6 separate regions of the Homo sapiens genome follow, and all the other regions are reported to be linked to region 1. Evidence: microRNA targets listed by miRTarBase, many of them from high-throughput screens and not tested one by one. Region 1 holds a microRNA gene; each other region holds the end of a gene's coding sequence.

Region 1 (5,074 bases):
TTCCTGTATAGACAGGTAGGCTCTGTTCTGGGGCCGTCCCCAGGGGGTGGGGCTGAGGGTGGGCAGGCCCCTGTGCAGTCTTGGCTCTGGGTCGTGGGCGGCTCTGGGTCACAGGTACGGAGGATGACGGCTGTGCTGGTGGGTCACGGGCGGCTCTGGGTCACAGGTACGGAGGATGACGGCTGTGCTGGTGGGTCACGGGCGGCTCTGGGTCACAGGTGGCTCTGGGTCACAGGTACGGAGGATGACGGCTGTGCTGGTGGCCGTGGGGCTGGGGGCTTTGGCACCTGCCCAGGTGAAGACGATTCTGGAGAGCCAAGATCCCCTGGGCAAGCACCAGACACGTGTAGCCCCAGCCCACGGCTTATTCCTCAAGTCAGTGCTGTACGGGAACCTCGGTAAGAAAAACAGGCACGAGAAGCTCCTGTCATGTGCCCAGTGACTACTGTGGCCGAGGCATGGGGTGGGGGGCCAGGGGCCACTGACGGCAGCAACTGGGGGTGAAGCAGCCCCCCGCCCAGGGCTGCAGTCCCTCAGGCCAGCCCGTAGCCCGTCCTGGGCTGGCCCACTCCCTGGTCATGGGAGTGGTCTCAGCGGTGGGGAGGGTGCTGGGCCGGTCTTGCCCCAGGCTGACGCAGGGTCTGGTCCGTCCACAGGTGCTGCCTCCTGCACCCTGCAGGGGCCACAGTTCGGGAGCCACGGATGACCCTGGACACTCAAGCCAAAGTTAGGCCACACCAGGCCCAACCCTGTGCTGGTCAAGCCAGGGCAGTCACAGCTGCTTGGGGCCCACAGCACTGCTGCCTGGTCTCCACAGTAGCCTCCCTGCCCGGGTCCCAGCACCCTGGATGCCCGTCTCTGTCCCAGGCGGGATGGGGCACAGTGCAGGACACAGCCATGTACACCAAGAAGAGAGTACCAAGTAGTCTTTTGTTCAGCTTTTACTGGAAACTGCTGTCTAGGACCACCTGCCCTAACCAGGAATAAAGGCAAGACAGCCTGGAGACCAGTTTGTTTCTTCAGCTGCAAACAGCTGCCTGGGCAGGCAGGTGACACAAGGCCTCTGTCCCCAGGGATGGGACCTGCAGGGTCTGTTCACCCAGGGCACCCACAGTCCTGAAGTGCAGGCCCAGGGTCTGTCCAGCTGGGAGAGGGCAGAGGTGGCGGCTGGGTGAGTTGCCGGCCTCAGCTGGGGGCCTGGGGGAGGCCCTTCTTCAGCAGAGATGTGAGGAAGCTCCCCAGCTCCTCGTCCTAGGGCAGAGGCAAAAGCATTGTGGGTGGTGCAGGACAGGGAGGAATGTTGATACCTGTGTTGACCGCGGTGGGGTGGGGGTCACCCCTTACCTGGTAGGTCCAGGAGACCAGCAGCACCTTGGTGCCTGGGTCCTCAGAAGGGGCGGCGGCCTGGAGGAGGACGGACTCCACAGTCACAGAGCCGTCTGGGAGGTGCTGCACACAGTGGTCCTTCAGGACGCTGTGGGGAGGCTCGGTGAGACCCTGCCTGGCCTCCAGGGCCCAAGGGAGTGGGGGGGGGGCGGGGCCGGGCGCCCACCTCTTGAGGTGGCTGTAGACGCGCAATGCCGTCTCCTGCTCCTTGCGTGTGTCATGCAGGTGCACGCGGCAGGTGAAGCGCAGCTGGTGCTCAGCCAGACCCAGCTCTTTGAGGGCTTGCTCTGAGGACACCAGCCGGAAGTTCTGTGGGGCAGGGACAGGTCAGTGAGCGCAGCAGCGGCCCTCCCCCCTCCAGAGACCGTCCTGGCACTCACGCTGTCCTTCATGATCAGGGTGCCGTGCAGGAGCCGAGGCTTCTTGGCCTCAGGGAGCAGCCCTGCGGAGGAGGTGGCAGGAGCCATCAATGTGAGGGCCGCTCCCAGCCGCCTGCCCCGAGCACCCTGCCCTGCCCTGCCCAGCCCGCATACCCTGCGCCATCTCCCGCTTCAGCAGCCCCAGCGAGATGCCTACGGGGATGCTGGGGCTTGTGGGCAGCGTCACCGTCTCGCCATTGGCCGGCATGTAGCAGTTGACCCCTGGACCCCGGGGGAAGAGAGAGCCTCAGCCCAGGCTGCCCGTGCTGACCCGAGGTGGGCCCCACGCCGCCCGCCCGGCTGCCTACGGAGCTCCTGCTCGATCTTCTGCTTCAGGAACTCCATCTTCTTGGCCTCGCCATGCACCAGCAGCACGCTCTCCGGCTCTGCCTGGCCCACCAGCTGCATGATGCCCTTGGCGTCCGCGTGTGCGCTGAATGACATGTACTCCACCTGCATCTTGACCTCCAGCTACAGAGGCCACGGGGCGTGGACAGTGGTTACCACCAGGAGGTGCCCCTCGGCCCTGCCAGCCCAGTGCGGGGTCGAGACTCACCACCTGCCGCCCCTCCATCTCGAGCTTCCGCTGCCCGCTGAGGATCTTGTGGCCGACGGTGCCCTGCACGCAGTAGCCGGGCATGATGACCTGGGGGCAGGCACAGAGCTCACAGCCAGGGAACTCCAGCCTTGGCACCTCAAGGCCTTGCCCGGGATGCCCCCGCCTGAACCCCTGGAAGCTGTTTCCACCTGCCAGCGGCGCCCGACCAAGCCTAGCTGCAGACTCCAAAGGGCTCAGGTTTTGGCACAAGACTGTCCAGGGCTGGGCTGGGGCTGTTCTGCCCGAGGTGGACAAGCTGTGTCACAGAGACTGAGCAGCTCCAGGCGGACATCGCCCCCGTTCCCCAGCAGCAGCAGCCACGTCCCTTGGCCAGCACGAGGCCAAGCCAGTGAGAGCTCAGAGACAGCATGGGTGGAAGGACAACCCGTCGGCCTCCAGCTTCCAGATTCCCACACCTCACCATGCCCTCACCATGTTCTTTTCGTTTCCGGCCCATTTCCGGAAGATCTGCAGGGACTGCCCAGCGTGCAGCATTCCTGGCGTGGCAAACACAACCTACAGGACACACAGGGCCAGGTGGGGGGTCAGGGCAGCAGATGCCCCCACCCCCACTGCAGGCCCAAGCCCAGACACCTGCGGAAGACAGGAGACCGACGGGTGTGGATGTGCTGGCCGGCCCTGCCGCGGGCCTCACCATCGGTCCTGGGTTGTCAGCAAAAGCCCGGTCGAAGGCCTTGATGTGCTTGAACTCAAACATGTTCCTCTGCACGAAAGTCTTGCGGATCTTCTGGTTGGTCCAGGGGATGAACAGCTTGTAGTAGTGGTTGGCCTTCTCGGTCAGCCCCGTGGAGAAGTAGATGGGCACCTTCAGGTTCATGCGCTCCCTGGGGACCACCGGCCCAGTCAGCACAGTGGCCACAGGGGAGAATGCTGCAGGGCAGGACTCGGCCGGGTCACCCCCAACACCCGTGTCTGCACAGCCCACGCACGGGCCAGGTTGAGTCCAGTCGCGACCACTTGTCCCATTAAGCCCTGCAGCAGCCGGGCTCAGCGGAGAACCAGGAACCCCTACAAGAGCCGCACACGGTGGCGCTGACGGGATGTCACAGGCTTCCTGGGGTCACACAGCACACGAGCGGCCCCCCAGGACAGCAGCAAGCAGGGCCAAGATGCCACCGCTACGCTGGACAGGGCTGCCCACCAACTGGACTGTGTTCAGGCCGGGCCAGGGGCTCCTTAAAGAGCCGTCCTGGCGGCACCTACCAGAAGGTCTCCAGGAGGATGCAGAGCTCCTGGGCGCGGCCCAGCGCGAACACAGGTATCAGCACCTGAGGGGGACACAAGGCAGGAGCCCTGGGCACATGGCCCCTCGACACAGCAGGCAGCGTCCAGTGAGGGCACGGCCAGGTGCCCAAGAGCTGCGGCCTCATAGGGACCTTAGCCTCTCATCTGCTCCCAGTCCCGTCCCAGCCGCTCTCCAGAGACAGAAGGGAGCCGTATGAGAGACAGGAGGGAGCCGCATGAGAGACAGAAGGGAGCTGCATGAGAGACAGAAGGAGCCTGGCCAGGGCTTCGTCCGCACCTGAGGTAGGAGGGAAAAGGGGCTCCCTAGGAAAGGGTCTCTGAGTTTTCCTCCTCAATGTTGAGCAAATCTTCTTCCCTCCCTGCCTGAAAATGCAGTACCCCCCACCCTGAGACCCTGACCCATGCCAAGGGCAGCCAAGCCTGCCAGAAAGACCAGCCCAGCATGGCCGAGGGCCCATGTCCCCACCCCTGCTGCAGCTACCTTCCCACCACGCTCCACGGTCTCGTGGACTTTCTTCAGGAAGTCTCGCTCCCGGCAGCGCTTGGAGTCACGGATGGTCGTGGCGTACGTGGACTCTGTGATGAGCAGGTTGGGGCGGCACTTGTCAATCCAGGCAGCTCTGGAACACGGGGGTGGGGGTGTGAGCCACGATGCACTGTCCCCACGGTTGCAGGGCTGGGTGTGACAAGCTGGACCCCAGTACCACGCCCAGCCGCCTTCCTAGGTCACTCTGGCTGGAAAGAGCCAGCTGGTAAAATGCTGTGGGCAGCACACTTGGGAAGAGAGAGGAGAGACAGAGGCACCCACCCAGACACTTCGGAAGAGCGAGACAGAGGCACCCACCCAGAGACTTGGGAAGAGAGAGAAGGAGGGACAGAGGCCCCTGCCTGGACCCTGTGCCTTCGCGCATTTGGGCCCAGAACGAAGGGGGCTCTCCAGGCCGCACAGGACATGGGAGACACTGCCAGGCTGGCCACTCAAGGGCTGGCACCCTGACACCTGCAAGGGTCCTGAGCTCCAGGGGGGCCCACGGGACAAAAAGACACCTCAGCCTACTTACCCTAAGTGTCGGTCTGGGGTCATGTTATAATCACCCTGGTGAACGATCAAGGATGCCATGAGGAGGGTGCCTCCCACCCCAGCAGCCCCTCCCAAGCCTCAAGCCCTTCCACTGACCGTGTAGACCACAGACTCTGAGCCCACTTTAATCTGGAACATGGCTGCCCCCAGCACGTGGCCTGCATAGTAGGCCTTGATCTCCAGCTCATCATCTACCTGTGGAGGACAGGGCTGCGCTCAGGCTGTGTCCTCACAGCAGAGGGGCGGGGAGTGAGGGAGGCGGGGGACGGGAAGCGCGGGAGGCGGGGGTGGGGAGCGTGGGGGAAGGGGAGCGAGGGGGCGGGG
Region 2 (5,074 bases), not on the chromosome of region 1:
ATCTCCTTTGCATAAATGATAATTAATATCTTGGGGACTCTCTTATTAACTGTATTTTCATTTACTTCTCCAGATGCTGGTTAACCTCCACACGCTTGATTTTCAAGCATCTGATCTTTGATAACTTCCATATTAAGAGACTTCATTTCACCATCTAGTATCCCTGTACTTTAATTGAACTAAAGATTTACAAGGACACTCCATTTTCCTATTTACAGAGAACCTAGTCTGTACCTGCCATTGTTTTACATACATTTTCATGTCACAAAATTTTATTTCTAAACAACACCCTCATTTATGTATTTTCTAAGTGTTCACTGGAGTAACACAGAGAAGAAATGCAGTAAACATATAATTTGGATTAAAATGTATGGAAGGAAAAAATCCTTAAAGTAAAAATCATATACAAAAACAAAAAGTCATTTTACTACTATTGGCTCATGGCTGTAATCCTAGCACTTTGGGAAGCTGAGGCAGGAGGAATGCTTGAGGCCAAGAGTTCAAGACCAACCTGGCCAACATAGCGAGACCCCACGTCTAAAAAGAAAAAGAAAAAAAAAAAGAAAAGAAGCTATGGAGAATATGTTACACAATACCATAAACTGAACAAGACATGAATATAACACAGCCTTTGGAAAAATGCCCTTTGGCTAAAATTGCTTGATCATATTATGTAATAAACTTTTCCACAAATTCATTTGCATTGAACTACTGTAAAAATATTTTAGGCAATTTAAACAGCATTTCACAAATATTTTCAAGAATGACGTTGTGTAATGGGCCCTATGGGTTCAGCAGAAAGGAAGAGTATTATCTACTATTATGAAGAAAGCGGAGGTCTTCCCTAACAAAGAAGTTAGAAATTTCTTTTGTTTTTTTGAGAGTCTCACTCTATTGCCCAGGCTGGAGTGCAGTGGTGAGATCTCAGCTCACTGCAACCTCCGTCTCCCGGGTTCAAGTGATTCTCCTGCCTCAGCCTCCCTGGTAGCTAGGACTACAGGAGTGCGCCACCACACCTGGCTAATTTTTGTATTTTTAGTAGAGATGGGGTTTCACCATGTTGGCCAGGCTCGTCTTGAGCTCCTGACCTAAGGTGATCCACCTGCCTCGGGCTCCCAAAGTGCTGGGATTACAGGCATGAGCCTGTAATTTCTGGCCATGCCTGGCCAGAAATCAGAAGTTGCAAGAGTAAATATTCAGTGTTGTACTACAGTCAGTTTCCATTTTGTGATTTTTGTCTTATACCACCATTTATACCTCTGCACTCCCTCTTCTTATTCTGCCCATCTGGCCAAGCTGATAATGTCCGTGTTCCCTCCTTTGGCACTAGATGGAAGTTCAAATCACGTGTGGGATCCTCACCCCAACCCACCCTTTTATTAAAGGTTATTACCATAACACCCCAAGCAAGTTATTTATCCCTGCTCTCTCAAGCCATTTTGGACCAGTTTGGGAAGTCAATCCTGCTTCTCACAGAAAGCCTCATTATGCAATACACATTTCCCTAAAACTTCATTGTTCAGCATCCTCATTTTCCATATCTAAACCAAACTGTAAATGGAGTTCAATACACTTCCTGTGGAGAGGTGACAAATTAACATTACCAAAAACATGATAAGGCTAAATTTATGAAACTTCTAGTTTACCTACAAAAACAAAATTTCCATTATATATGTTCATTTTTAAGAGGAAACTCATGAATATTAGTCTTGTCAAATTATGTGAGCATAGCATTCTTAGTGTTATTTTTGTTATTCTGCACTATTTATAATTTCATAATTTTTTTTTTTGAGACGGAGTCTCACTTTCTCGCCCAGGCTGGAGTGCAGTGGCAATCTCGGCTCACTGCAACCTCCACCTCCTGGGTTCAAGTGATTCTCCTGCCTCAGCCTCCCGAGTAGCTGGGATTACAGGCGCATGCCACCACATCCAACCAATATATATATATTTGGTATTTTTTAGTAGAGATGGGGTTTCACTGTGTTGGCCAGGGTGGTCTCGATTTTCTGACCCCATGATCCACCCGCCTTGGCCTCCCTAAGTGCTGGGATTACAGGTGTGAGCCACCACACCCAGCCAATATTTTTCATACAATTGTTTTTTTTGAGACAGGGTCTCGCTCTGTCACCCAGGCTGGAGTGCAATGGCGCGATCTTGGCTCACTGCAACCTCTGCCTCCAGGCTCAAGTGATCCACCTGCCTCAGTCTCCCTGAGGAGCTGGGACTACAGGCATGAGCCACCCTGCCTGGGTAATATTTCTATTTTTTTTGTAGAGACAGGGTTTTGCCATGTTGTCCTGGCTGGTTCAAACTCCTGGACTCAAGTGACCCCCCTGCCTTGGGCTCTCAAAGTGCTAGGATTACAGGCATGAACCACCACACCCAGCCCATACACTTTCTATATTTGTATTTTCACTTCATGTAAATAAAGATGCATGCCATAGTTATTTAGCACACAAGCATGTAAAAATATAATATGGTATATATTCACCAACACTGTGGCAGCTTTCAGAGTGTAAGAGTATGAAAACTGCACTTTCTATGGGATTTTCATTATATCCATATAAATATTCTAAGGCAGAGTGTAGAGAGAATAATTCAAGTGCAGAGTATGATTACATTTTCCCAAAATTGTATGTTGATTCCACAAAGAAAAAAAAAATTGTTCTACATCCTCCAACCTAAAAGACTGAGTGTATTGTTATTATCTGCTATGAAGTATCCTACTGAGGTAGGATAAAATGATGTTGGTACAAAGAATGTGATTTGTTTATAGTTATAAGAAAACGTTGAATTTTTTTTAGCAAAACATTATGTCTGTGACACATTCTTAATAAAACTGTAGCAAAATGTAATTCCAGCAATTAGTGTGAATTCTACTAAAAACAAAACAAAACAAAAAAAACCATGGTATTCTGGTTTTTCTGACCAAGCTCTCCACTCTAATAACTGTTACCTCTTCAATTTCAAAAATAAGCCTATTTTTCATCAATCTCTGCTATAAAACAGCTATTGCCATTCAGTAGAGAAAGTGGCAACCATTTCCCCTGCACTATTCCCATCACATAATCAGTCACTAATAACTTATTACTCTCCTCTCATAAAAATTCCAGTGTCCTGAGGTCTTGGCCTGCTCAATGCAGGTAGAGCCTTACTTCCCTAAAACCCATGGTGTCTTTCTCTCAGAAAAGCACCCTGAACACAATCAGTATGATGATTGATATCATAGTTTTACATTATTTTCTGCCCCAAAACCATGGTCTCTCAATTGAGAGAATATTTAATTTTACAAGGCAGAGTCCTCCTTCTTCAATAAACATGGATAAAAATGATCCTCATGTAATGAAGTAAGCCTTTCCATACTGTGGTTCTTTCCCAGATAGGCACCACGAAAGGTGCTTAAGGATGCAAAATAGCCACAGATCCATAGTTCAGGTTGAAAGTCACAAACAGTAGCCTTTTTGAGAAACCTCAAACAATGGAATAAAAGATTTTATAACCTGAAGGTAAGTAGCCATTTCCAAATGTCCTTTGACCTTTGAAATATATAATGTCTTAAGTTTTACCATATTGGAACGTGTAATTATTGTGCAGTTTATCATTTTAAAAGTGAATCAAAGAACTAGAGACTGAGTCACTCTTTGTATGAATCCTCACCTACAGTTACAGTCTTAGAGTAAGAGCTTCAGGATGCTCTTACACATTACATTTGTGTGGTTCCATCAAATACGTAGATTTTAATGCCTGCAAAGCTGTGAGGCCTGAATAAAGCCTCTGTCACACACAGTACATTTATGTGATTTCTCATTATTATGGACTCTTGGATGTCTATTAATACTTGAACTCATGAGGAGTTTGCCACAGTCATTGCATTTTTTTTTTTTCCTTTAAGATGGAGTTTTGCTCTTTTTGCCCAGGATGGAGTGCATTGGCACGATCTTGGCTCACTGCAACCTCCGCCTCCTGGGTTCAAGTGATTCTCCTGCCTCAGCCTCCTATATAGCTGGGATTACAGGCGCACGCCACCAGGCCTAGCTAATTGTGTACTTTTAGTAGAAATGGGGTTTCGCCATGTTGGTCAGGCTGGTCTTGAACTCCTGACCTCAGGTGATCCACCTGCCTCGGACTCCCAAAGTGTTGGGATTACAGGCATGAGCCACTGCACCCAGCCAGTCATTGCATTTTCAAGGAATCTCTCAGGCATAAATTCTCTGACGTTGTCAAAGGAATGAATTCTAACTGCAAAAGTTACCACCTTCATTTGTAAGGTTTCTCTCCACTATGAATTCTGTGATGGCTTGCAAGGTTTGAACTCTGACTTTAGAACTTTCCACACGTTACATTTGTAAGGTTTCCCACCAGTATGGATTGTCTGATGGGTAGTTAGGCTTGAACAGATACTAAAGGGTTTCCCACACTCATATGGTTTCTCTCCGGTATGAATTCTCTGATGCCTTGCAAGTTTTGAAGTTTGACTAAAGGCTTTGCCACACTCATTACACTTGTAAGGTTTCTCTCCAGTATGAATTCCCCGATGTCTTGCAAGGTGTGAATTCTGAGTGAAGACCTTCCCACACTCATTGCATTTGTAAGGTTTTTTTCCAGTATGGATTGCCTGATGGGTAGTTAGGCTTGAACGGACACTAAAGGCTTTCCCACACTGATTACACTCATATGGTTTCTCTCCAGTATGAACTCTCTGATGCCTTGCAAGCTTTGATGTTTGACTAAAGGCTTTGCCACATTCATTACACTGGTAAGGTTTACCTCCAGTATGAACTCTCCGATGTCTTGCAAGGTGTGAATTCTGAGTGAAGACCTTGCCACACTCATTACATTTGTAAGGTTTTTCACCAGTATGGATGACCTGATGGGTAGTTAGGTTTGAATGTTCACTAAAGGCTTTGCCATACTCATTATACTTGTAAGGTTTCTCTCCAGTATGAATTCGCTGATGCCTTGAAAGGTATGAATTATGCCTAAAGACCTTGCCACATTCATTACATTTATAAGGTTTCTCTCCAGTATGAATTCCCCGATGTCTTGCAAGGTGTGAATTCTGAGTGAAGACCTT
Region 3 (5,074 bases), not on the chromosome of region 1:
ATTTGGCATTCCCACCAACAATGTACAGGGTTTCCATTGGTCCACATTCTTGCCAACATTTGTTATCTTTTGTTTTTTGATAATGGCCAACAGGCATATGAAAAGGTGCTCAATTTCACTAATCATTGGGAAAAAGCAAATCAAAACCACAATGAGATATTAACTTACACATATTAAGATGGTTATTACATGTGTATCTTTCCGGCCAGGCTCTGAGCTCACAATCACAGGGATTGTGTCTTTTTTGTCTTTATCTCCAAAGTCTAGCATAATGCTCATATGTCAATAATTGTTCTGGTAATTTTATCCTAAATTTGCCCTAAATATAATTTCAAAAGAGCTTTAGGGGTAATAGGGCATGAAACAAAATTAAACTATGTTTTGAATTTCTTTCTTCAATACTCAGAGACAGAGAAAATTATAACATTCAATTACATATTTACTTTTATTTACATTAGTAAGGCTGTAAATTATGAATGTAAATGTGCTTAGCTAGAACAAATATTGCTCAGAATAAAAAAGATATACAAATATAATGCTAATATACAATATAGGCTATCATAAAAATTTGTATTTGTGTACACACATACATAATTGGCTACATTCGACAATGGGGTTCATTTGATTCCTCCGTAGTAATTAGAACAGGAGACTTAACTGATTACAGCCATGATGCGGTTACTTAAAAACACACACACACACACGCACACAGGCACAGGCACACACATGCACACCCCACATAAATAAGTTTGGGAAAATTTTAAATTTTCTCACTTAGGACTTTTCAAAGCCATCTCAAAGGAGCTTCCTCAAAACATTTAATGTTGGCATCACCCCACAAGTACTCAGAAATAAGTGTTAAAATAGAAATCCAATCCAGTAATGGGAAACTGACTTAGATTATCTTATTTGTTTGTATATTTATTTGTCATCTATCTCTCTTATTCACTGCTCTATTTTCAACATCTACAATAGTGCTTAGTAATGAATACACATGCAGTACACAAAGGTGCTAACACAATATATGACTAATGATGAGGGCTATGCACATTTATACAGAATGAGAATTATTTAGTCCAAAAAATATCTGGAAAGCATAAATGCTGTAATTGGATAAAGCTAAAATTCTATTACTCTATTGAAATCAGATATCAAGTGATACTTTTAAACTAAACGTGAGGTAATGGTTGAAAAGGGATTAAAACACTGGAATTTGGGCATGCCAAATCCAAATCATTGAATATTCAATTACAGATCTAATAAAGCAGGTAGACCATGAATAGGATAATTGCATATGGAGACCTTGGTTCCAGTCGCGACTATGTCACTGTGAGATTTTGGCCAATGAGGTACAATTTCCTCAATTATAAAATGCATTAGAAATAGCTGCCCTCTCTTCTTTACAGAAGTGTTGTAAGAAACAAATACAATCGAATTTATATACTCTTATTATTTAATCATCCATTACAAGCAAAATGTAAATGTGATTGTCCTTACTACAATCAACACTGAAAACAGTGAATTCAGGATGTTGCTGTGGCAGGCCAGAGGTGGGTCTCTTGAGTCTCCATTGAAATAACTTGCTGGCCAGCAAGTTAGTGGACAGCGTCCAGCTGCGCCTTCTGGATTGGCCACAGCATTTGCAGGTCTTTTTTTTTTGTTGTTTTTCTTTTTCCCAGGATAGCCCCAGACAATGACTTAACAGGATGGGGCACTAAGACCCAGACATTACTGCCCAGCATAACACTGTCTCCTCTCTGGGCAAACTTTGCTTTGGGCCTCACTATGAGCTGGCCAAAACTCTCCCAGAGCTGTGTCTGAATCTCATGCTTTTTCTCCTCACTCCCCACACCTCCCCTCTTCCCTCTCACAGGTGGGAGCCTGAAAGCCCACCCCATACCCATACTTCTGTTTCTTCTCCCTTTTATCTTTCTCAAACATTAACCTCCAATCAGTGTTTGCACTTCTAACTTTGTCCTGGTGTCTGAGTTCTAGAAAACCCGACACCCAATCCCTCAAACCCCAATCACCAGAAGCAGCCCATGTCAGTATTTTCCATTTTATATTTTTTACAGAAGTGTTCAAATACACAAAAATATTGTAAGCTTTTTATTGCAAGATGTTTAATTTCTTTTTTTTCTTCCTTTTCCCCTCATTCTTGCTGTCATCTTAAGGATGCTGAATTTCTACTTCTTTTTTCTTCTTGGAATTATATGTTGTATTTGTGAACAAGAGACGATAAAATATTATTTCAAACGTACACCTTATCAAATGCTAACCCCCACTTGACATTCACCTATTTTATCAACAGCAATGGTTGAGAGGACTCATAGACATTTCTTGAGAACATAGCATTGAATGGCATGGCCTCAATGAATCAGTGAGTTGGAGGTATCAGTAATCTCCCAATAGCTTTTTAGGGTGAGGGTCAGATTCCTTCTTAATGTGAGCCTGGAGCTCTTCTGTAAAGTCCTTGTTTCCATACTGTCCCTGGCTTGTTGAATTCCAGTAGAGAATGACCAGCAACCATACAGCTTTTAGCTTTGACCGGACCAGTGAGTTCTTTCGTATCCAAGCTCCAATTTAAACACTCTTGTCTCTTGGTTCTATGTAATCCTCTGCAGGCATACTCTACGATAGGCTCAGCTGGGTCTCAAAAGTTCCAGCTTTACAAATAGCTTCTTCATTAAATGCTCCTGATGTAACTTATAGGCATCACTTCACATTGACCTTGTGAAAGGAGAACACCTGAGCAGGTATTTGGATAGTGGGTAGATGCTAAGAGCTTTTCCCAGAGAGCTCATTGTCTGCTGTCTTACAAAAGAGATAATCCTGCACATTGTTTTTATTGTTTTCATTTGCTTCTATTGCCTTTTAATTATTTTTGGTTTTCTTTCTGCATCAATGCTACAATTACATAAATACTCTATGAATTTCCTTTGTAAGCTTTGGTAGCATTTGACATCATGATATACTGTTATTTTCGACAGACAGTATGTTTTTTAAAAAAGCTTATTCCCACTAGAAGAGTTTATTTATTTTAAGGTGGTAAATCTGTATTTTCAAATTGTTTCTATCTTTCTCTCTCTCTCTCTCTTTTTTTTTAAATTAGCTTTTCAACTTGATTGTAAAATGTCACAGCGCAGAGAATGTACCTGGGAAGATGAGCTTGCATGGAGCCAGGCAAAGCAGATTACAATCTGGGCTCTCTTCTCATATTGAGTAAGATCAATAGCTACTTCGAGCCTCTGTTTCCTCATCTTTATTGTAAAACAATAATAAAATTAAATCCTCTTAACCTCTACAGGGAATAATATCATGGCCTGTGCAACGTTACTGCAAGAATTAGCACTAATTTGAGGACAGTTTTTCTCTGTCTTTGAATGGAAGTCCATAATTGGAATTGTTAATACAATTTTTAGTTTCCCTCAGACATATGCTTGCCTGAAGGCTAGTGTAGGATATAATCTGAGCTCTGTACTATGAATGTGTTAATTCCATTTGACTTAAAGCTACTTGAAGCAGATGATGCTGGAGGCTGGTCCCATGACCGTTTCACACCCTAGTCAGAGGATTTTCAGTTTCTGTCTTCAAGGTGACATTCACAATTGCTGGTTTTCCATACCACATTTCTTCCCTATACTTGAATTTCTAGGATTACAATAAAAGAGAGCTAATATTCACCAACCCAACACCTTTTTTTTTTTTTGAGACGGAGTCTCTCTGTCCCCAGGCTGGATTGGAGTGCAGTGGCGCGATTTCGGCTCACTGCAAGCTCCGCCTCCCGGGTTCACACCATTCTCCTGCCTCAGCCTCCCGAGTAGCTGGGACTACAGGCACCCACCACCACGCCCAGCTGATTTTTTGTATTTTTAGTAGACATGGGGTTTCACCATGTTAGCCAGGATGGTCTTGATCTCCTGACCTCGTGATCTGTCCACCTCAGCCTCCCAAAGTGCTGGGATTACAGGCATGAGGCACCGCACCCAGCCCAGCATCTTTAGTGTAAGAAATCATCCACACATTGTATATATGTAAGGCCCAACAACTGACATAAAGGCAGCGCAGTGTCCTGTAAAGAGCACAGATTTGGGAATTTCCCATAGACTTGTCTTGCACTGACTGCAAACATTTAAGCAACAGCTTCTGGTGCCCTTTGCTGCTCGCCTGTATCATGAGCATAATGGCTATGTTTATAGTATTTTTTGTTGTTGTTTTTTAGAAGATACTTTTAAAACCCTAGTTTTTATTTTTATTTATTTTCCAGTGGCCAGTTACTAGAATGTTTTTATTTTTTGCATGTTATAAATATTTTCTCTGTGGTTTGAACTTTCAAAACCGTGAGTGATTTTCCACTCTCTGTTATAGAGTGTTTTTCTTTTCTCCAAAGTTAAAAAAGTTGTCCCTTGAAGGCACAGAAAATAAACTTTTGAAATCAATGAAAACAATGGAAGCGCTGAATCCAGTAAACCAAAGATAACACAAAGACCAGGCTACAGAGGCAAGAGGTGTCTGGTGAGAGGGAGTGGCTGAGTGAGGTGACACTGTTTCCTGTGGACCCCAGTTTTATCTTTCCCATCAATTAGTATAATGGGAAAATTCTTGTAGTGTTCGATGATGTCTTCTACTGAATCAAACTTCTGAAACACAGAAAAGAAAGTTAATGACTTTTAAAATATCTTTTGTGTCTGTAGGTTAAAGTATAGCCAAGGTGCTTCATTTTGCATGGGGAAGAGGTGAACCAATTTAACAATGTTTGTATGGTAAAGGTGTTTCAGGAAGTGGTTTTTGGTTTGTTTGTTTTTTTCTGAGACGTTGTTTTGCTCTGTCACCCAGGCTGGAATGCAGTGCCACAATCTCGGCTCACTGCAACCTCCGCCTCCCGTGTTCAAGTGATTCTCCTGTCTCAGCCTCCCAAGTAGCTGGGATTACAAGCATGCGCCACCACGCCCAGCTAATTTTTGTATTTTTAGTAGAGACAGGGTTTCGCCATGTTGGCCAGACTGGTCTCGAACTCCTGACCTCAGGTGATCCACCCGCCTCGGCATCCCAAAGTGCTGGGATTACAGGCATG
Region 4 (5,074 bases), not on the chromosome of region 1:
TTATTCACAGACATAATCATCTATGTGGAAAACCAAGTGAAACCAATTACAACGTTACTGGCACCAATGAGTTTTGCCACATTGCAGGATACATGATCAATATATAAAAATCAATCGTAATTCTATATGTTAGAAATAAACTGCTAGGAATTGAAATTTTAAAAATAATACTATTTATAATAGCATTAAAATATAAAATTCTTGGGAATATATCTGACACTATGCAAAATATCTGTACAATAATAACTAAAAAGTATTGTTGAGAAAAATCAAAGAAGATCTAAGAAAATACCTTATTCACAAGTTGAGAGAGTCATCATTATTAAGATTCTTTACCATGACATAATGCAATCACAGTCCAAATCCAAGCAGGTATTTTGTAGAAATTGACAATTGATTTTAAGACTCTCATGGCATGTAGATGACACAGAAATGTGCAGTAACTCTGAAAAAAACAAAAGAATAAATTTAGAGGAAAAATACAATCCAGTTTGAAGAATTATTACAAAGCTACAAAAATCATAACAGTGTGATTTTGGCATAAAGATAAAGAGATCAATAGAACAGAACAGAGTCCAGAAACCAAGTCTACATAAAACACATACACACACACACACACACACACACTCACACATACACACACTCTCTCTCTCTCTTAAAATATGACTGGTCAAGTGACTGCTTATGAACTGTAATTGCTTGATACATGAGTCTAGCATCTCTTGGCCTTAAATCACTACCATAACCTTGAGAAGTTGATGATGCCTTTGTTTTCTGAGAACAGTTTCAGCGTGCAAGCTGACAGTTCCATAGAGATGGAACAAGTGTAGAGCCAGAAAAAAAAGGGATACACACAGACTTCTTAGGACTTTTTTTAAAGCTATTGAAGATGATAAACTAATGAGGCATAAGTATACTTTTCATTATGAATGTTTGTTTTCACATCTTTCAGTAATGTGTATAAGAAAAAGTATTTAATGTGGTATTTGTTAACCAAGCAACCCATTCACTATTTATATTTATTTCAGAAATCCATGATTTAAATTTAATTCATAATTTTTGGCAACATACCTTCATCTACTTCTGCAGTTATGTTTCCTTGTACACCTGCTGCATCTGAAACTGTCAAATCTTATTAATAATGTTTAAGTTAAACAAGAGACATTATCATGTAGCCCTATTATATGTCAAGGAGGGTTGATCAACACTAACTTGAAAATCTGAAATCCAAAATGCTGTACAATTTGAAACTTTTTGAGCACCCGCATGATACCACAACGGGAAAGGTCCACACCTGACCTCATGTGACAGGCTGTGGTGGAAACACAGTTAAAACTTTGTTACATGCAAAACATTTTTGTAAAACATTGTACAGGCCAGATGTGATGACTCACGCCTGTAACCCCAGCACTTTGGGAGGCTGAGGCAAGTGGATCACCTGAGGTCAGGAGTTCAAGACCAGCCTGGCCAACATGGTGAAACCATCTCTACTAAAAATACAAAAATTAGCCTGGTGTGGCTGCACGCACCTGTAGTCCCAGCTACTTGGGAGGCTGGGGCAGGGGATTGCCTGAACCTGGGAGGCAGAGGTTGCAGTGAGCTGAGATCACACCACTTCACTCCAGTCTGGGCGACAGATCAAGACTCTGTGCCCCACTGCATCCCCCAACCCCAGGCAAAAAAAAAAAAAGTAAAACATTGTGTAGAATTATCTTCAGGCTATATGCATAAGGTATATATGAAACATAAATGTATTTCACGTTTACTCTTGGGTACCATCCCTAAGGTATTTCATTAGGTGTATACAAATATTCCAAACTCTGAAAAAATCTACTTTTGGTCCTCCCAAACATTTTGGACAAGGGATATTCTAGAAAAATAAAATTCCTTTTCAGTGTGACAGAAAATAAGAGATTGACTTATTGAACTTGAACTTACCAAAATTTTCTGAAGCTGCTCAATTTTGTCCGCTCGCTTTTTCATTCTAATTTTTAACACGGCATTTTCTATTTTAAGCCTAAAATATATATTTTAAAATAATTATTCTCAGACATAATTTTTTTTAAATCATATAAATTCTGAACAAACATCTGAAGGAATAATTATATAAATTCTGAGACATTTGAAAAGTAGAAAATTGAGAAACTGTTGTTATTTTTTTACCTTTGTTTTGTGGGTGATGTGTAAAATTAAAAATAATGTAGAAAATTTATGCATTTCAAAATAGCCTAAAGCTGAAATTTTTCCTTGACTTCACATAGACATACTTATTATCTTAACTGATACAATTCTCCTACTACACTACTCATTTGCTTTATAAATACTCAAGATATTTTGTATGTTGCTTTAAACTGTACTTTTGCATGTGGTCTGGCAACTCCTCAGCACGTCTTAGAATCTCTGTGCGTTGATTCTGCATTTCTTGCAACTAAAACAAAGAATTAAAAACAACCTTTAGGTGTGGAAATAACCCAAATGCCCATCAATAGGTGAATGAATGAACAAAATATGGTTATATATAAAATACTGTTTTTAGACTATCACAATCTATTTTAATAAAAAATGATAATCTAGGACAAATCGACCTATTACTTTTTTTTTTTTTTTTTTTTTTTTGAGACAGAGTCTTGCTCTGTCGCCCAGGCTGGAGTGCGGTGGCACCGTCTCGGCTCACCGCAAGCTCCGCCTCCCGGGTTCATACCATTCTCCTGCCTCAGCCTCCCGAGTAGCTGGGACTACAGGCGCCTGCCACCACGCCTGGCTAATTTTTTGTGTTTTTTAGTAGAGACGGGGTTTCACCGTGTTAGCCAGGATGGCCTTGATCTCCTGACCTCATGATCCGCCCATCTCGGCCTCCCAAAGTGTTGGGATTACAGGCGTGAGCCACCGTGCCTGGCCCCTATTACCTGTTTTTTAACTAAATTTTACTGGAATGCAGCCACACCCCTTCAGTCTGCATATTGTTTACGGCTACTTTTGTGCTGTAACTGTAGTGTTGAGTTGTTGCAACAGGGATCTTATGGCTCACAAAGTCTCAAATAATACTACTTGGCCCTTTACAGAAAAGTTTACTGCCTATGCTCTAGGATTAAAACACAGTATTTTTCTTTTCTAATTTCTATTTTATCAGATACTCAAATTTACAAAATTGGTAAAATGGGGAAACATAGGAAATTATAGTAAGCATTTATATTTTTCAATTCCAAACACCACTATATCAACTATAATTTCATTTCTTTTTTGTCTGTTTGCATTTAATTTTTGCTGTAGCAAGAAAACTTGCACTTTTTTTTTTTTAAGACGGAGTCTTGCTCAGCCACCCAGGCTGGAGTGCAGTGGCACCATCTTGGCTCACCGCAACTTCCACCCCGCCAGGTTCAAGCAATTCTCCTGCCTCAGCGTCCCGAGGAGCTGGGACTACAGGCGTGCACCACCACCATGCCCAGCTAATTTCTTTATCTTTTTTAGTAGAGATGGGGTTTCACCATGTTGGCCAGGATGGTCTCAAACTCCTGACCTCAGGTGATCCACCCGTTTCAGCCTCCCAAAGTGCTTGGATCACAGGCGTGAGCCACCGCGCCCGACCCATTTTTAACATTTAAAACTAAGCATCATCTTTCCTTTCCAGGGAAACCAGAAGAAAATTTTAAAACAAACAGAAAAATAATTAAAATAGATAGATTCTCCTATCGAGTGGCAGGGCTCATGTCATCATTAGGAGATAATTTATTTAAAAGTGTCATCTTAAAATGCAGGGATGTCCATTGACATGCCAAAGGAGAAGCCACGTTGTCAAAATGCCCACTTGACCCACCCAAACATCTCAAACCTACCCTTTGCTGACCTTCTATAACCCCATTTGTAAAGTTTTTTGTTTTTGTTTTAAGCAAGAGAAAGTAGACACATACATGTTGGCAAATGCTAACTGTCCATAGTCATATGACTCTGACTATAGACCAATATAAAGTCAGAGCAAGGATTTTCATCAAAATACTAATTTATTCTGCAGAATGGACTTTCTGTACCAGTTAACCAGAAACCCATGAAATAAGTAAGCACAAGTCTTTATTCACACAGAAAAGTAGAGATTAAAAAAAGAAAATTTTCTGAAACATTCCATTAGACATTATCCTCTGAATTAATCTGGCTTGTCTCCACGTGGCAATGAAAGAAATCACTAAAAATATACTGTAAAAAGAAAAAAGAATTCTCTAATCTTCTGTGAGAAATGATGTGTAATTCTCAACTTTCATAAGGGGAAATAGTGTAAGAAAAATATTTATAATTATAAAACATGGCAGAGATTGAGAAATGGATGTATTATAAAGATAATCAAATTTTAATAAAATTAATTATAATGAAAATACAAAAGAAAGCTCTCCACTGAAACTAGTGTCCTGAAACACTTGATATTATTTAACCAGCTACAGAGTAACTGTTGACATGCTAAGTTTCATACATACTTGACTTCTCATCTGGCCTAATTTCTTTTTTAAACTTTGTGCCTCATCTTCTAAATTAATACGACGTTCTGATGAAATCTCTAGCATAGCTTCTAACAGCAATTGTTTGTTCAGGGCATCATCCACTTCTCGTTGAAGCTGTCTCCTGACTACCTGGTAAGATGTTATTTTTGTTACTGATTTTACATATCACTTATTATTAAATTTTGTTAATAATATTTAACTCTAATATACACACTTCGAAAAATACCACCACACACTGATTCTTCTTCTCCTCCTCATGTGTACACATTCCTGTTTATTACTGAATCCAGTTAAGGATAAAGAAGGTGTTATCTTTGTGCCAAACTGGTGCCGTGTTACTCATACAACAGATTCAGCGCACTGATGAATGTGCAATGCTTAAAAACCTTCTGAGGTCTCAAAAAGAAACAGGTATGTGGGTGGGACTGGTGGCAGTGAATTTTACACTGCAGTGTTTTCCGTCTTTTTTATAAGAAGAAGCTCAAATCAACCTCAGAGTTCTTCACATATTCAGTCACCAGCTCAAATCCTTCCAACAGATTTCCACCTCAGAAGAAAACTAACCTTCCAATGGCCTTAGAGGCTCT
Region 5 (5,074 bases), not on the chromosome of region 1:
TCCATGATCAATCTAGTTTGGCATAGTTGTCTGTTTAGGAGGTTGGTCATCAGGCTTGGTATATAAATAGCTCAAATCAAATGTGGCTGGTTTTACCATTTGGCCAAGTTCAGGTCAGCTTCCATCTGGGTGTGTACATGACAGAGGTCCTGCCTCCTTTCGAGATACCTCTGCCACAGCCAATTCCATCTTGGATTTTCTCTTCATACTTAACACCATGTGGCCCTTCACTCCTTAACTGTCCATACTTATCAGCCAGGATTCTGGGAGATGGTAAAGTTCGCCTGGGTGCAGTATGTCAGCATCCTGCTTATCTTCCTCTGGGTGTTTGAAAGAATCAAGATCTTCGTGTTTCAGAATCAGGTGGTGACCACCATTCCTGTGACAGTGACGCCCCGGGGAGACTTGTGTAAGGAGCACTTATCCTAGAAAGGCCATTTCTGAAGACTCAGCAGGACCGTGGCTGCCTCATTGTCATCTTCTGGGAACATCTTAGGACCTTTTGAAAGAGCCCAGCGGACACCTGCGGGCTTGTGTGCTTTTCCCTCAGAGACAACGGTTCTTTCCGGTTTTGCTCTACACAGTTCCGTATCTTCAGAGCTCCTGCAGAATTGTCAGGGACTAGTTTGTGGAAAGGTCTGAGAGTTCCTGGAGGCTATAATTAGCTTTTTGGGTTTTCCTTCTTTGCCTTAGCGTTGAATTTCAGGAGAAAATTGCAGTCAGTTCAGACATCTTGGAAAGAGTCCCATCTCTGGTCAAGCAGAGACTTTTCCTCTGTTGAACTGAGGAACACACTGTGCATTTCTACCTTCTGTTGTGAGCCACTCTTACTCTTTTCAGGGCTCTCTTGTGACAAACATGCCAATCACTAGCACTTTGCACCCCTGGGCTTCTCCATTTCCCATTCACAGCTTTGATTTCCAGAGCTGAGGCCTTTAACTGGAGACCTGGAGGGGCAGGGCCCAAGGGCAAGGGCCGCATTAGCACAGGCAATCAGGGAGGGCCGCTGAAGGACACTTGGACCGTCCACCTGCCCCAGCCCAACAGTCAGTCATCTGTCATCAGCTCAGCTGAGCAGCCCTGGATCTTTGCCGTACTGTGACTGGGCTCTTTGCCCTATTTTTCCCTCTGTCTGTGCCCCTGGATGGCAGGCTGAAGTCAGAGGGGCTGTTTCATTCTCAGCCCCCTCAGCAGCACTGGGGGAAGAAAGCATTGTCACAACAGGTTCTTTCTGGCCCTCACCCAACAGCCTGGGCACTTGGCCCTCCTCCTCCTTGACAGCCCTCCCCCTTCCTGCAAAGGACAGGGGCGACAGGGGTTGGTGTTGGGATTGGCTCCCGCTGCCTGACAACCACAAGTTTATTTGGAAGGCTAGCGGGAAGCCCAGCGGCTGGCGTTTCCCTTGACTAAGGAACAGGGTGCCCATCAGAGTGGGGCGGGCAGCTTTGGGAAGGACACAAGAAGCAGTAAGAGTGTAAAGAGGATGCTGGCCTGGGCAGGCCAGTCCAGCCTGGCCACTAGCAGAATACCAAGCAGTCCAGTGGATTACCCTCGTGGCTAAGCAAGTGTCTGCAGGAGCAGAGATGGCTGGAAGGGGCCTCTGCACACGGAAGATGGCTTGTTCAGCCCATTCACCTCCTGAGGATGTGGGCAGTCTCCTCCAAGAACACATGGAGCTGCTTCCTGATCCCAAGCAGGTCATTGCCACTGGAAGGACATGGCCCCGGTGATCCATGCTTCATGCCCACCCAGAAACACACCCCTCAGTGTGTGCCTCAGTTTACTTTGGAGATCAGTTGTCGTTTTTAGTGCTCCTTTAGGCTTACTAAAACAGTTTTGGAAACAAAGCTATTTTGAAGTATTCAAGCAGAGGAATTCCCTAACACTGACCCCCTTGTCTTTTTTTAATATTCAGGCTGTTTTATATGCCTAAATTTTTTTCTTAAGATCTAAACGAAAAATAGTTTCTTGTTTAAATTCACATAAGGCAATGAGATATGGAAAGATGACAAGATACGTATAAACATTGGTTTGCATTTTATTAAATTATTCTAATGCAAATCTTGTATAAAGAACCCATGATGTTTTGTAACTTTCTAATTAAAATGTTCAAAATGAGGCCGAGCATGGTGGTTCATTCCTGTAATCTCAACACTTTGGGAGGCCAAGGTGGGAGGATCACTTGAGCCCAGGAGCTTGAGGCTGCAGTGTGCTATGATTGCACCACTGTACTGTAGCCTGGGTGACAGAGTGAGACCCTATCTGTTAAAATAAATAAATAAATAAATAAAAAAGTCAAAATGGAAGATCACATGTACCTTTTTCGAGGGAAAGGGTTTGGAATGGCAAAGAATAGGGAGGGCAGAGGTTGCACACACCTGTCTTTATTACTCATCTACAGCCATGCTTTACAAGGCTCTGCCTAACGACCTTGGAACTTCCATGAGGTCTTTGGTGAAAGTCCCCTAGTTCTTCCCCAGGTAGATGAGTTTTCAGTGGGATTCACATGCCATGTGAAATCTACGTGTTGGATAATTATGACTGTGTCTGGTGAATATGAAATTATTTACAGACCAGATGTTGATAGTTTCTGACTCTGAATCACAGCATAGCTGCAAGAGGTAAATAAAAAGCAAGAGGCCGGGAGCGGTGGCTCACGCCTGTAATCCCAGCACTTTGGGAGGCCGAGGTGGGTGAATCACAAGGTCAGGAGATCGAGACCATCCTGGCCAACATGGTGAAACCCCATCTCCACTAAAAATACAAAAATTGGCTGGGTGTGGCGACACGTGCCTGTCATCCCAACTATTTAGTAGGCTGAGGCAGGAGAATCGCTTGAACCCTGGAGGCGGAGGTTGCAGTGAGCCGAGATTGCGCCACTGCACTCCAGCCTGGCAACAGAGCTAGACTCCGTCTCAAAAAAAAAAAAAAAAAGAAATATAGAGGATTTTATTAACTCAGCTCCGACCCATAGCTAAGTTAAGGTTTGATGTTATTACTGAATATTTGGAGGCAGAAAGACTCCTGATTTTGCCAAATGATTAGTACAGTTTCGGCTTAAGTCAGATGAGGCCCCCCTAATATTCCATCATGTAAGGCTAATAAAGCAATTATTTCTTTTTTTTTTTTCCTTCCAACTTTTATTGTAGACTCATGGGGTATATGTATGGGTTTCGTATATAGCTAAATTGTACAACCTGGGGGTTTGGTGTACAGATTATTTCATCACCCACGTAATAAGCATAGTACCCAGTAGGTGGTTTTTCTTTTCTTTTTCTTTTTCTTTTTTTTTTTTTTTTTTGAGACAGAGTCTCACTCTGTTACCCAGGCTGGAGTGCAGCAGCATGATCTCAGCTCATTGCAGCCTCTACCTCCCAGGTTCAAGTGATTCTCCTGCCTTACCCTCCCGAGTAGCTGGGATTACGGGTGCCCACCACCATGCCCGGCTAATTTTTGTGTTTTTAGTAGAGACAGGGCTTCACCCTGGTGGTCAGGCTGGTCTCGAACTCCTGACCTCAAGTGATCCATCCGCTTTGGCCACCCAAAGTGCTGGGATCACAGCAGTTTGATCACAGAAGTTATTATGGTTGGCATTCTGGCACACATCTTTCTAATCTTTTTTGTTGTATGTAACCTTTTTAGTATCACAAACAACACTTTTATAAACCTTGTGTAGAAATCATTGTTGCTGGTTTATTTCCTTAAGATACATTCAGAAAACTTATGACCATTGTTAAGGATCTTAATTCATTGCCAAACCACAGCCAGGAAAGACTGCTAATTTCTACTCCCAGCAGCAGGGACTCCTCGTTTCAGATACCACCATGGATTAAAGGACCTCCCAATGCTCTATCCTTTTCAGATTACTGGACTCTGCCCGTTTGTTTCTTTGTTTTTGAGATGGAGTCTCGCTTTGTCACCCAGTCTGGAGTGCAATGGCCCCATCTCCGCTCACTGCAGCCTCCACCTCCGGGGTTCAAGCTATTCTCCTGTCTCAGCCTACCTAGTAGCTGGGATTACAGGCATGTGCTACCATGCGCGGCTAAATTTTGTATTTTCAGTAGAGATGGGGTTTTGCCACGTTGACCAGGCTGGTCTTGAACTCCTGACCTCAAGTGATCTGCCTGCCTTGCCTCCCAAAGTGCCGGGATTACAGTCATATGCCACCAGGCCAGGCTGAGCTGTTATTTGTAAGGGGTGGGTGGGGAGCTTTTATTTACTGAAACATATCCTGTATTCATTGGAACATGTTATCAAGCCTGCGCCTCTGGGCGGAGGCTAGGGCAGGGAGGGCACAGCTCCTAAGGCCACCTGGTCTTTCAACTCCTCCCAGCTGGGACACTGCACCGGGAGGCAGCACGGATTCCTGTGTCATCAAGGTGCCTGGGTCTTGGCTTAGGGCTGAGGTTGGGGCCTTGGGAAGGGTTTGGATTCCAAGTCCCTTGGCTGCAAGGATGCCCCCAAGAGCGAGGAGGGCCAAGATTAAGATTCGACTTCCTTCACTAGGGCCTTTGTCCTCCCAGGAGCTCCCAGGTTCTCTGGCGATTGGGGGGGTGAGGAAGGGTTACAACGTTCATTTGTGGTCAGTTAGATGAGAAGTGACTCTGCCAGCGTCCTTTGACATCCCCGGCTAAAAGGTGCGCCTCTTAGAGCCCCAGCCCACCTGGGCCCTCCTGCTCTGCCCTCGGCCAGCGCCCCTCCCCGAGACATGGCCCCTCGGTCGGGGGTGGGGAGAGGGAGCTGGGGGCAAAACCTGCTCCTTCCTTCCTTCTCCCATTTCCCTGGCTCCCGCCGGCCACCCTGGGACCGCAGCCACGTCTGAAAGCTCCTCACCAGGCAGCGCTGAAGATTGCGGGGCAGCGCCGAGGGTTGTTGGCCGGCGCGCGGGGAGTAGAGGGCGCGGGCCGCAGTGCCGGGCTCCGGAGGGAGCTCTGCGCCGGGTCCTTCCCTGTGGTAGCCCCAGGACACCCCCATCCTCAACATCCCATTCTGGGACTCCTGCCCTGTTCCCAGATTCGCTCTGCCTCGAGTCTCCAGGAGCTTCCAGTGGCTTGGTTACCCCCGACTCTTCGTC
Region 6 (5,074 bases), not on the chromosome of region 1:
CACAAACGCGGATCTGACCTTTAACAACATTCTCTACCAGTTGGGCGCACTGGCTCACGCCTGTAATCCCAGCACTTTGGGAGGCTGAGGCGGGCAGATTGCCTGAGGTCAGGAGTTCCAGACCAGCCTGGCCAACATGGTGAAGCCCTGTCTCTACTAAAAATACAGAAATTAGCTGAGTGTGGTGGTGGGCGCCTGTAATCCCAGCTATTCAGGAGGCTGAGGCAGGAGAATCGCTTGAACCTGGGGGGCAGAGGTTGCAGTGAGCCGAGATGGTGCCACTGCACTCCAGCCTGGGCGACAGCGAGACTCTGTCTCAAAAAAAAAAAAAAAAAAAAAAAAAAGAACGAGGTAAAACTATTGTTCTTTGTAGATGATATGATTGTATACCAAAGAAAAGCTACTGCAAACAATAAGAGAATAGAGTAAGTTTAATAGAGCACCAAAAAAAAAAAAAAAAAGATAGCATTCAAATTTACACACCATAAAACCTCATTTACAATAGCCATAAACAACAAACAGAAAACCAAACAAACCTTGGAATATTTTTAACAAAAATATGCAAGACCTATATGAAGGAAACTTTAAAATACATCTGGGGACAAATGAAAAGACTTACCACATTACTGGATAGGATGACATCGTGAGGATGTCAATTCTCACTCAACAGTATATATATTGAATGCAACCTATATAAAAATACTAACAGCTTTTGTAAAAATTGAAACTAGTCAAGATGATCCTAAAGTTCCACAATAGAAAAAAAAAATCAAAGAACAGCCTGAAAAACTTTGGAAAAGAAGAGCAATGAGGGTGGACTAGCACTACTAGGACCTAAAACATTCCAAATGAATAAAAATTGTAATGTTAACATTTAAAACTTAAAACTATTCATGAGTGTGGGGGGAAGGTAGGGTGCAACCTGAGGCAAAAAAAAAAAAAAAAAAAAAAAACCAAACAAAAAACCAGATTCCTTCATGATCCTGCAGTGGCAAAGACCTTTCTTTTTTTTTTTTTTTTTTTTTTTTTTGAGATGGAGTCTCGCTCTGTCACCAGGCTGGAGTGCAATGGCATGATCTCGGCTCACTGCAACCTCTGCCTCCCGAGTGCAAGTGATTCTCCTGCCTCAGCCTCCCAAGTAGCTGGGATTGCAGGTGCGCGCCACCATGCTCAGCTAATTTTTGTATTTTTAGGAGAGATGAGTTTCACCATGTTGGCCAGGATGGTCTCGATCTCTTGACCTTGCGATCCGCCCACCTCGGGCTCCCAAAGTGCTGGCATTACAGGAGTGAGCCACACCCGGCCCCATGACTCAAAGTCTAGAAACCGCAAAAGAAATAAACTGAATATACACAGCTACATTAAAAATTTTTTTCTCTTTTTTTTTTTTTGAGACGGAGTCTGGCTGTGTCGCCCAGGCTGGAGTGCAGTGGCTCAATCTAGGCTTACTGCAAGCTCCGCCTCCCGGGTTCACGCCATTCTCCTGCCTCAGCCTCCTGCATAGCTGGGTCTACAGGCGCCCGCCACCACGCCCGGCTAATTTTTGTATTTTCAGTAGAGACGGAGTTTCGCCGTGTTAGGCAGGATGGTCTCGATCTCCTGACCTTGTGATCCGCCCGCCTCGGCCTCCCAAAGTGCTGGGATTACAGGAGTGAGCCACCACGCCCACCCAACATTTTTCTGCATGGCAAAAGGATCACAGCAGTCTGAACTGCTGTGAACTATATTCCATGTCATCACAAAGGGCTAACTTCTTTAGTGACTGACACATAACTTACAAGCCAATAAAAAATAAGAATATGGACAGATAGTTCGCTGAGAAATGAAAACAAATGGCTCTTAAGCATTTGAAAACATGCGTCCTCACTCGTAATTAGAGAAATTCAAATTAAAACCATAGTGAGAAACCATCTTTTACTGTCAGATGCTTCCAAAGCTGTCAGATTAGCCAGGCCGTGGCGAGAGGCACAACTATCCCTGGCTGAATGGAAGGTAAACTGGTTGAGCCCCAAGGACAGCACTCTGGTGACACATTAAAAATACCAAGGTGGGGCCGGGTGCGGTGGCTCACGCCTGTAATCTCAGCACTTTGGGAGGCTGAGGCAGGTGGATCACGAGGTCAGGAGTTCGAGACTAGCCTGGCCAACATGGTGAAACCCTTTCTCTAAAAAAATACAAAAATTAGCTGGGCACAGTGGTGCACCTGTAGTCCCAGCTACTCGGAGGCTGAGGCAGAATAGCTTGAACCCGGGAAGTGGAGGTTGCAGTCAGCTGAGATGGTGCCACTGCACTCCAGTTCAGGCGACAGAGTGAGACTCCGTCTCAGAAAAAAAACAAAAACAAACAAAAAATAAGGTGGCTGGGTGCGGTGGCTCAAACCTATAATCCCAACACTTTGGGAGGCTGAGGCAGGCAGATCTTGAGGTCAGGAGATCGAGACCATCCTGGCTAACCGGTGAAACCCTTTCTCTACTAAAAATACAAAAAATTAGCCGGGCATGGTGGCACGTGCCTGTAGTTCCAGGTACTCCAGAGGCTGAGGCAGGAGAATCACTTGAACCCAGGAGGCAGAGATTGCAGTGAGCTGAGATTGCACCACTGCACTCCAGCCTGGGTGACAGAGCAAGACTCTGTTTCAAAAAGAAAAAAAAAAAACAGTGTATTATGGAAAACGAGTAAACACGTATAAATGCATAGAAAATGTTAAAACATTTTGCAAACAACCCAGATGTCCAAAAGGTGTCTAGTTCATTATACTAAGATAAGGCTTTACATTGTAGTTGTAAAAAAAAAAACGCCCAGTGGAGTAGCTCACGCCCAGCACTTAGTACTTTGGGAAGCCGAGGCAGGAGGAACAGTTGAAGCCAAGAGTTGGAGACAAGCCTAGAAAACATAATGAGGCCCCATCTCTGTTTCTATATATAAAAAAAGAAAAAAAAAACCCTGATATATAAATCTCTCCATATATAACTGAAAAAACCCAAGATGCTGATAGAGGTATACAATATGTTACCTTGATTTTATATTTTTAAAAATTTATACCTCGTGATGCAAGTTAACTACCTTGATATTAAAAGGGAAAATGCACAATATTTAGATTGATGTTTATTTGCATATGCATTAGAAAACCTGAAAGGCGTACAGTGAAAAAGCAAAAAACAAGCAAAACCAAGAAAACAACAACAAAACTCCAAGCCACAAGCAATGGCACCTGCATGGAATAGTTCTGAGTTTGGCAAAGGACAGCAACAAGAGAGATTTCTCACAGCATCTTTTGATACTTTTTTTCTTTTTTTTGAGACGGAGTCCCACTCTGTTGACCAGGCTGGAGTGCAGTGGCGTGATCTCGGCTTACTGCAACCTCCGCCTCCCAGGTTCAAGTGATTCTCCTGCCTCAGCCTCCCGAGTAGCTGGGACTACAAGCGCGTGCCACCACACCCAGTTAATTTTTTATTTTTCGTAGAGATGGGGTTTCACCATGTTGGCCAGGGTGGTCTTGAATTCCTGACCTCAGGTGATCCACCCGCCGTGGCCTCCCAAAGTGCTGGGATTACAGGCGTAAGCCAGTGCGCCCGGCCGATACTTTTTTTTGTTGAGTCTTGTGAATAGAATACATATTCTAGAATAAAATAAAAAGCTTAAAATTAACAAAAAACAAGTTTATTCCACACCTACCCAATTTCACATAGACTTGAAAACACTGATCATATAATACGTGGTTTTTTCTATTGAATATTTACTGTTCATCTAAAGTACCTCAGAAAACACAAATATGAATCTTACACTAGGATTTGTTGACATGACCACAAATTGTGAAATTTCAAAGTCCTCTCAATAGCCTTCCAATCCTAGTAACTCAGGTACACCTGGATTCCTGACAACTCTATTTCTTTGTTTTCTTTCATCACTTAGGTTCATTTCTATGGGTTCTGTTATTGGCATTTTTTTTTTCTCATATCTTTGCAAAACCATCCTTTATGGTGAAAGTCATGAAGGATTCTTCACAAATGCAGGAAAATGCATTGCTAACAAAGTGCTAAGTCAGAAGTGTCTTGGGACCTGTTTGAAAACAAGATTCGGCCGGGCGCGGTGGCTCACGCCTGTAAAGTAATCCCAGCACTTTGGGAGGCCGAAGCGGGAGGATCGCTCGGGTCCAAGCGTTCGGGACCAGCCTAGGGATGCGAGACTCCCTTCTCTATTTAAATAATACTAAAAAAGAAGAAAGAAAACAAGATTCAACAGTCTTGTCTGTTTCCATTTCGGAGTGTGCTTCCTCCTTCAATTGCACATTGCCGTATTCCCTTCCAGTTTGCATTCCCCCTAATGACTGAGTTAACTAAACTGGCACAGCCTGCCTGTTCTTTTGATCCCAAAAGGGTCACTTGGCTATTCCTTGCCACCAATGTCATCATCACAGCCGACTCAGTCGGCCAGAGGACTGAGGGCCTCGGAGGCAGTCAGCGCTACCGTAAACGCGACAGCAGCGAAGTCCATCTGCGGGGGATCCGCGTCAAAGGCTGCTTCCCTCGCCTTGCAGCCTTCCACAAACAGCCTGCGGCGTTCCTCGAAATCCCGTAGTAATCTGACCGGAATCATGGAGCTACCATCCAGATACTCGCGGAACAACAGCTGCCGGTTAATTTCTAAGAAAGCGAGCTGCTGATGGGGGTCTGGCGCGGAGGCCAGGCCCGGGACGCTGCTGGGGATGGGCCCGGGCACAGGGCCCGGCATCCGCGCCATGGACCGCGCAGCTTCGGCCACTGGGCCTTCCCGAGCCTCCTGCACCCGAACCCCGCCGCCGACTGCCCCCCGCAGTACGTCGCTGACGCCACTCGCGGTGCCCACCTGTGGGACACTGCTATCTCCGGGGAGCTCGGACATCTCCAACAGCCCAGTCGGCTCCGCCATAGTCCCAGCGTTTCTACGGAGACTGGAATAACGGCACTGCACTGCTGTATGCGAGACCTGCGCATGCGCGAGTCTCAGTGAGCGCGTAAACGCTGTGCGTGCCAGAGTGTGCGCATGCGTAAGCACGGTGGCCAATCCTCTAGCGTTCCCTAGCGGTCCTGAGTAG

What was found. Region 1 holds the annotated microRNA hsa-miR-6727-3p (UCCUGCCACCUCCUCCGCAG, at 1,829-1,848, opposite strand). A microRNA usually pairs through its seed, bases 2 to 8, with sites in the 3' UTR of a target mRNA and lowers its output. Matches are read on the target gene's strand: a 7mer-m8 pairs with bases 2 to 8, a 7mer-A1 pairs with bases 2 to 7 and ends in A, and an 8mer does both.
Region 2: the mRNA of ZNF347 is a reported target of hsa-miR-6727-3p. Seed matches in the 3' UTR shown: 7mer-A1 at 3,981-3,987, 7mer-A1 at 1,879-1,885, 7mer-A1 at 966-972 and 7mer-m8 at 234-240.
Region 3: miRTarBase lists CLNK as a target of hsa-miR-6727-3p. Seed matches in the 3' UTR shown: 7mer-A1 at 3,802-3,808.
Region 4: the mRNA of ANKRD62 is a reported target of hsa-miR-6727-3p. Seed matches in the 3' UTR shown: 7mer-A1 at 3,389-3,395, 7mer-m8 at 2,745-2,751 and 7mer-A1 at 2,707-2,713.
Region 5: miRTarBase lists TMEM231 as a target of hsa-miR-6727-3p. Seed matches in the 3' UTR shown: 7mer-m8 at 1,146-1,152 and 7mer-A1 at 2,822-2,828.
Region 6: the mRNA of EID2B is a reported target of hsa-miR-6727-3p. Seed matches in the 3' UTR shown: 7mer-A1 at 3,388-3,394.

The regions. Positions count from the first base shown.
Region 1 is chr1:1,310,674-1,315,747 of GRCh38, forward strand. It overlaps MIR6727 (microRNA 6727), which reads right to left and starts at 1,893; the gene lies at 1,829-1,893. It overlaps PUSL1 (pseudouridine synthase like 1), which reads left to right. Exons shown (of 8, transcript NM_153339.3): 6 at 1-15; 7 at 236-398; 8 at 657-1,004. The coding sequence ends at 706. It overlaps INTS11 (integrator complex subunit 11), which reads right to left. Exons shown (of 17, transcript NM_017871.6): 5 at 4,847-4,945; 6 at 4,731-4,765; 7 at 4,151-4,289; 8 at 3,628-3,692; 9 at 3,059-3,248; 10 at 2,836-2,919; 11 at 2,362-2,451; 12 at 2,114-2,276; 13 at 1,920-2,027; 14 at 1,767-1,828; 15 at 1,553-1,695; 16 at 1,345-1,474; 17 at 927-1,251. The coding sequence ends at 1,186.
Region 2 is chr19:53,136,029-53,141,102 of GRCh38, forward strand. ZNF347 (zinc finger protein 347) reads right to left here. Exons shown (of 5, transcript NM_032584.3): 5 at 1-5,074. The coding sequence ends at 4,280. Among named protein-coding and RNA genes, the nearest start is that of ZNF415, 5.7 kb to the left of the region's middle.
Region 3 is chr4:10,485,974-10,491,047 of GRCh38, forward strand. It overlaps CLNK (cytokine dependent hematopoietic cell linker), which reads right to left. Exons shown (of 19, transcript NM_052964.4): 19 at 422-4,640. The coding sequence ends at 4,494. LOC105374482 (a long non-coding RNA gene) reads left to right here and starts at 3,140. Exons shown (of 3, transcript XR_925387.4): 1 at 3,140-3,222.
Region 4 is chr18:12,127,290-12,132,363 of GRCh38, reverse strand. It overlaps ANKRD62 (ankyrin repeat domain 62), which reads right to left. Exons shown (of 14, transcript NM_001277333.2): 14 at 2,600-4,616. The coding sequence ends at 4,425. Among named protein-coding and RNA genes, the nearest start is that of ANKRD62, 36 kb to the right of the region's middle.
Region 5 is chr16:75,535,349-75,540,422 of GRCh38, reverse strand. It overlaps TMEM231 (transmembrane protein 231), which reads left to right. Exons shown (of 7, transcript NM_001077418.3): 7 at 249-3,682. The coding sequence ends at 429. CHST5 (carbohydrate sulfotransferase 5) reads left to right here and starts at 4,315. Exons shown (of 4, transcript NM_024533.5): 1 at 4,315-4,379; 2 at 5,014-5,074.
Region 6 is chr19:39,527,895-39,532,968 of GRCh38, forward strand. It overlaps EID2B (EP300 interacting inhibitor of differentiation 2B), which reads right to left and starts at 4,958. Exons shown (of 1, transcript NM_152361.3): 1 at 3,093-4,958. The coding sequence starts at 4,908. The coding sequence ends at 4,423.